Linked DNA regions of Homo sapiens. The protein of the gene in region 1 purifies or fractionates together with the protein of each later gene. This does not show direct contact. Each region holds a gene or a part of one and is shown on either strand. Other genes may lie near its edges.

Evidence for each region. Proteins that work in one complex are often made in the same cells at the same time.
Region 2: the proteins of UBN2 (region 1) and HAT1 purify together in Homo sapiens (affinity purification with mass spectrometry, with the first as the bait; one large-scale study listed by BioGRID). This does not show direct contact.

The regions. Positions count from the first base shown.
Region 1 is NC_000007.14:139,286,737-139,290,236, forward strand, and holds part of UBN2 (ubinuclein-2), read left to right. Parts: intron 1-3,500.
Region 2 is NC_000002.12:171,963,961-171,967,460, reverse strand, and holds part of HAT1 (histone acetyltransferase type B catalytic subunit), read right to left. Parts: intron 2,124-3,500; coding exon 1,944-2,123; intron 1,675-1,943; coding exon 1,553-1,674; intron 1,053-1,552; coding exon 948-1,052; intron 619-947; coding exon 512-618; intron 1-511. UniProt on the Homo sapiens protein: Histone acetyltransferase that plays a role in different biological processes including cell cycle progression, glucose metabolism, histone production or DNA damage repair. Coordinates histone production and acetylation via H4 promoter binding.

The DNA.
Region 1 (3,500 bases):
TCTAAGGAAGTGCTCTTTGTACTGTCTCCTATTTATGTGGAACAGGAACATGTAATGAGAAGAGTTTCCCCTTGCTGTATGTCAAGGTTTCCTGCTGTTCAATATAGTCTAAGGGTTGATATTCAATATACATTGTATATTCAAATCATCATTCTGCTACTAATGTAGGCATAGGAATGACTGGATGCCAGAATTCTAATGAAGAACAAATTCAGCTAACTGGTAATTCATTAATTGAAATCTAGGATTAACTGATGTTTTATGTATATACATTTACTTTCATCAGAAATAAAATAATAAAAACATTGATACTAGGGATTATATGTTAAAATGTATATGGAGATGGATGAATAAAGGCCTTCCCTTATGAAAAAAAAGGTATATGGAAGATTGGAGTTAGTCTGCATTACTGTTTATTAAATAGTTTACTCTTCTTAAAATTAATTCTTAATTTGATCAAAGGAATAAGTGAAAAGATAGCATAAATGGTAGTTCCCTGCCCCGTATCCTCCTCCTAGGGTTAACTACTTTTAACTCTCTCAGCATTTTCTTCTTTTTGTTTTTAAATAATAATAAATGGAAAAGTCTTGATTTTATCAATTTTATAAAAAATTGGGGAGTTATTTCTGGAATTAAAAATTCATTTTTATTTTCATTTGCTTCATTTTCTTTGAACTTAAGATTAAATCTTTCTTCATCCTTTGTCATCTCTACAGTCTGTCAGTTCTATTTTGTTCCCAGAGATCTTCCTGTATTTCATTATTGATTGCAAAAGAACCCCTATACTGTCTAACAAATAATTGGTTTGTCAGCATGAAGGCTACTTGGCAAAGTATGAGTTTCTGAAGACTAACTACTCCCTCCTGGTTTTCTTCCTCTCCCAAATGGCTTTATGATTTGGAGACTGAAGTGTTCCTGCCTTCATATCTGATCTTTTTTTTTTTTTTTTCTGTCTTACTGGTTTGACTGAAGAAAAGATTAATAATTGAATAAGGTCATTTCTACCCTTTGGCGAAAGTAAGGTTCTTTTTGTTTTAACATAGCGTCTCAATAAAGTCTTACCAGCTATCTTGTGGCCTCTAGAACCTGTCTATAGCTCTCCAACACTGAAAACAGAGTTCCTATCTATGCCTGTAAAGCATTCACCTTCTGTCTGAAAGGCATCTGTGGGTGTCTGCTCATTTGCAGAGTGAAAATGACAGGTCCTTTAACAAATGGCAAAAGTTAAACTCCTTCTGGGTTCAGGTTGTTAGCTCTGCTTGCTTTCTGTTTAATAACTTTCCACACAGGGGTTTCCTCCTCTTTCTTACCCTTCAACTTACTGATTTTCTGTGAATCCTGTCTTTGCCACTTTATAATTCCAAACATCATTCATTCATTAAGCAAATGTTTATTGAGTGTTTACTATGTGCCAGGCACTCTTCTAGGTGCTGGGGATATAGGGATGAACAGCATACTCACACATATAGTCTAGGTAGGAAGACAAGGAAAAATACAAGTTTTTTCAAAATGTGGTAAATGCTGTGAAAAAATTGTAGGATAATATGATAAAAGTGATTGCTGCTAACGTAAAAAAGGTTAAGAAGGTTTGAGGAGGTAATGTTTGATTTGAGAATTGAATGAGCAGAAGCCAGCCATGTGTAGAGAAGAGGGGGAAAATAGTTCAGGCCAGAGGGAACAGTTGTATGAAGACACTGAGATGGAAAAGAGCCTGAAGTGAAGGCCTGCATGGCTGGACCATGGGGAGAGAGTGGTAGGTGATGAGATCAGAGAGAGACCAGAACCATGTCATGGAGGACCTTGTGGACCACAGTAAGGACTTTGGATTTTATTCTCTGTGCAGTGGGAAGCTATTGGAGGTTCTTAAACAGGGGACTGATATGGTCTGATTTGCATTTCAAAAGTTTACTCTGGGCGTTGTGGGGAATAGGGGACCAGTGCACTCACCAAAGTAGAGTATGTGGTTTAAAAAAAAATTTAATTGCGGCCGGTCGTGGTGGCTCATGCCTGTAAACCCAGGACTTTGGGAGGCCGAGGTGAGCGGATCACGAGGTCAGGAGATTGAGGTCATCCTGGCCAACATGGTGAAACCCCATCTCTACTAAAAATACAAAAATTAGCTGGGTATGGTGGCACGTGCCTGTAATCTCAGCTACTTGAGAGGCTGAGGCAGGAGGATCACTTGAATCCTGGAGTTGGAGGTTGCAGTGAGCCGAGATTGCACCACTGCAGTCCAGCCTGGCAACAGAGGGAGACGCCATCTCAAAAAAAAAAAAAAAAAAAATTAATGCCCACTACGGGAAGAGCAAGGATTCCCTTCAATGTTTTTTCCCCTGGGAATAAAATGTAGAGGTCACGGAAAGTATTTTTGATTATGGGGCATAATCTGGAACTATTTACCTGCTTCATGCTGACTTCTTGTGCATGATCCCAGATGATACCAACATTGGAGTACCCCACTGCTGAAAGGTCTCCATCTTTTAGGATAGAGAGATTTGCAAATACCCATGTCACATTTAGATTATCTGATGCTTCCATTTATATTTATAAACAAATTAAAGTGGATATAGAAGTTACTTGAAAGTGTAAAATGTTAGACAGTTATGGCATAGTATCACTTTTTTGCTATACTTGAGTTATTTAATTTTGGAAATTGCCCTCCCTAATTTACATTTTGCTTTTTTTTTTTTTTTTGAGACAGGGTCTCACTCTGTTGCCCAGGCTGGAGTGCAGTGGTGCAATCTTGGCTCACTGCAGCTTCCGCCTCTAGGGTTCAAGCAGCTCTCCTGCCTCAGCCTCCAAGTACCTGGGATTACAGGCAGACGCCACCATGCCCAGCTAATTTTTGTATTTTTAGTAGAGACGGTGTTTCACCATGTTGGCCAGGCTGGTCTTGAACCCCTGGCCTCAGGTGATTCACCCAACTCAGCCTCCCAAAGTGCTGGGATAATAGGAGTGAACCATCGCACCTGGCCCTCATTTTGCATCTATTTTAATGCTTCAATTACACTCCTTCAGAAAAGCTTTAAAAGATTCCTTTTATTAACAGTATTTAATGTTCCTCACTAGGGAACTCCAACTGGGGCACACAGCCTTGGAGACTCTTTATCATCCCAAGACTGCAGTAGAATTATGATTAGAAGAAGCAACTCTGGTTAAATTTTTTTTTTTTTCCGAGACAGAGTCTTGCTCTGTTGCCCAGGCTAGAGTGCAGTGGCACAATCTCGGCTCACTGCAACCTCTGCCTCCCAGGTTCAAGCGGTTCTCCTGCCTCAGCCTCCTGAGTAGCTGGGATTACAGGCATGCGCCACCACACCTGGCTAATTTTTGTATTGTATTAATGGATTAATTATTGTAATTTTGTATTTTTAGTAGAGACCGGGGTTAGTAGAGACCACCATGTTGGTCAGGCTGGTTTCGAATTCCTGATCTCATGATCCGCCCACCTTGGCCTCCCAAAGTGCTGGGATTACAGGCATGAGCCACCGTGCCTTGCCAAC
Region 2 (3,500 bases), on another chromosome or scaffold:
TTTCCAAAACAAATAGGCCTACATTTCACCTTATCTACTACTGTTGTGAAGGCATGCATTTTAGGAATACAAAACACACACTTTAGGAAATGTGTATTCTATTCAAGAAGTATTTACCTTGACTTTTTTTCTCAGTAAAGTTTATAATATTCTGCCCCTACATGTAAATTAAAGTGCAGGCTGCCTCTAAATAATGCAACTGTTTGCCAAATAAAGTGAACAAATAAGTTATACCATACTTTCAACGTATTTACGCCTGACCAAGACTTCCCCATATATATTCAGCTCATTATCTTCAATTTGTTCCATTATGCACTTCACAGTTAGGGATGTAATCCAATCCCCACAAAGGCTTATGCTCTAAAACATAAACTTAAGCCATCTTTAGATGGCTTAAACACCCTAGGAAAATGTTGCTGTTTAAAATAGTTATTTCTGACAAAAATAAAATCAATCAGTAAGAAGACATTTTTAGAAAGGCTCTTTCAGTAACAAATCAAATTTTACATACCTGTAATATCAAGAACTGTAGGAAATTCAGTGTAGTATCTATGAACTGTTTCAAGAAGTTGAGCACCATGGCCTTGACCTTGAAATGGAGTCAAAATCAGCATCTGACTACAGTAAAGAAATTATTTTAAAATTAAAATATCATAACATGACCAGTTTAAAACCTGCAGATCACTATAGTATTACAAACACTTTAAAGTTTGTGTGATCTTTTTTTCAATCCACCTTTGAGATACCCAAAAATTATCAAGATACTCAAAATTAGTTTAATCTTCTACACTGTTTCAAAGGGAACAATGAAATAAATCAGTACATAGCCCATGAATAATAGTGATTTTTTTTTTAAACAAATCAACACTATTATAACAAGTATTGGAAACTTCAGCAGTTCCTTCTTCTGAAATAAAAGACAAGGCACGTGTTATACTGCCAATTACCTTACACGTGGCCGGGTTTTGTCTGGGTACACATAGTAATTATAGACTGTCATGTAGCCTACGGTCGCAAAGAGCGTAGCTCCATCCTTATTATACTTCTCAAATCTGCAGATAAAACAGAAAGCCAAGCAGGTCAATTACAGTCGCGCTCCCATGCAGTGTCCATTTTCTTTTCCATTCTCTGACTGAATTTTCAGTGTCAGCAAGCTACTCTGTGAGGGCCCAATGGGTACACCTGCTATGTTCTGAATGTACAATTCACTTAATTGGTGTGCAGCAACTTGGATAAATCAGACCTCTTTACATCACTTCAGTGCACTTGCCTATTATAAAGATGAATAGGTGGCAAGTAAAAGAAAACACAGGCAAAGCTCATTTTACTGTTTAAGCCTACATTCAGGGCCCTAACGGACAACAGCATTTAATTCAGCTCTATTCTCAAGGTCTCCCAAAGCATAATGAAGGAAAACTCAAGCCTCATAAACAATAGTTTTTCTTTCCTGGGAAAAATATCATTATACTGTCCCAATAATTGGGCTGCCACAATTAAAATGCTGGCTTTGTGGAGGTAATAAGGTCTACTGTTGCTTTAGAACTGTACTTACACTAGAAAGTAGTGCCATCTTTCATCATCCACGTCAATAAAGCTAGCAGTTTCAATAAACCACATCAAAAAGGTCTGAAGCCTTTCATGATATTCTCGAAAGCCTCTACATGTCATGTCAGCCTAGGGAAAAAGCCAGGAAAAGTCAGGTGAAACTCATCACAAAGGTAAGTGAAAGTCCGCAGAACACAAAATTATCCTGTGGGAAAATGTTTAGAAGTCTCAGATTAAGATGTGAACATAGATACAGACATACACACAAAATAGATCTTGGTTTATAATGCTGATTAAAACTTGTTTACTGCAGTTAGAATAAATCACTGACAACAAAACTACATACAGGTTTCAGGCAAATAGAACTTTACTCAATAAATATTTAGATTTATCTTTACCTTATATATCTGAAAGGTAAAGTTTTCTCCTCCTGTTGGACTGAGAACTGAGTAGGTATGAAGTAAGGTTCCGAATGGCTTGAAATCAACTTCCTTTTCCAGTAAAGAAAGGAAATCATTCGTGTTTGTGCAAAATCCAGGTGGAATGATTTGTCTAATTTTGCCCTCAACATCATCTGCCTAAAGAATAAAGGATATAAAAAATTAATAACAAATTCGACTTTAAGTTGAATATGGTTTATTTCTTTAAAACTGACAAAACCAACACAAATTACAAAACTTTGGTTGAAAACTAAAGAAGTAAACACACAGCGAATTGGAAAAGGATGAGCTTCCTGTGCACAAACTGCATCACACAAAACTGAGATGAGCATAATATAAAAGTAAATAAGAGAAGGCAGGTGACCTGATACCAAGTACAATAATAAGGGCAATGCTATGGACATTTCCATTATGCAGAAACAGCTGACTATACCCCTTCATGACAGTCTGAACTGGCCAAGGCAAAAGGTTGCTTATTATTTTATATGTGTCAAAGAAATCATATTATCCAAGACATGAAAAGATCACCAGCAGTGGTGAGATGAGACTAGAGTCTGACCAAATGAATAGCAATCTCACAACTAGATGGGTCACAATTCCCTCATATGCCAAACTCAAACTAAGATGATAACTTAAAAATATACATATTTAGGAAATAACATAAATTATATGAATGGATATATCATTCTTTTATCCTTAGAATGTGACACAATTCTTACAGACCTGGATTTGTGACAGTAAAAAAGAGACAAGACTGGACAACAAAACTAAACTCGGAGATTAAAATTACCCTTGTTAAACAACCTCTATCAATGTTATCAGCTGAGCAGACTTCATAATCCTTTTCAAAATCCCAAAAGACCACTTGATTGAATACATTTACTACTTCTCTTTAACCATGAATATTTGATGAAGTCTTACAATAAAGTATTGCTGCTTCTCACCAGGCAATAAAACTTAATGAATTGGTCTCAACTTAACAAAACCTTATCCCTCAATACAGTCCCTAAAAGCCTGACATTACATTCAACAAAATGAGCTTGTATTCTATTCAAACTTTTTCCTGAACAATGAGGCCAGGTTTTTACTTAATGGAGTTTGCCGTGAGTTCAGCTGTAATGTTTGTATTGTATCTATTTCCACAAGGACTGACACAAGAACACTTTGTGTTAACTTACTAAGCAGCTCTTTCATACCGTTTACATGCATGATGGGTATTAGTTCTAAACCAAGACCCTTGCTACTTAGCATTCAAAACAGGGAAATTAAGATGCTTAGGACAAAATACACTACAAAAGGCTAATACAACATGCTACTAATTCCTATCCTTTCAACCATCTTTTAACTAAGTAGAAGCAATGCACCTGCAGATGAATAGCACTTTATTATGATTCAGTTACATTTCAGGATAGAGAACCAGTGATGACGTTTATCACAAACAAGTTTTATTTTCAATGCTCTGGTACCACCAACATTTATATATAATTTGTTTATAGGTATAAAAAAGACCTATTA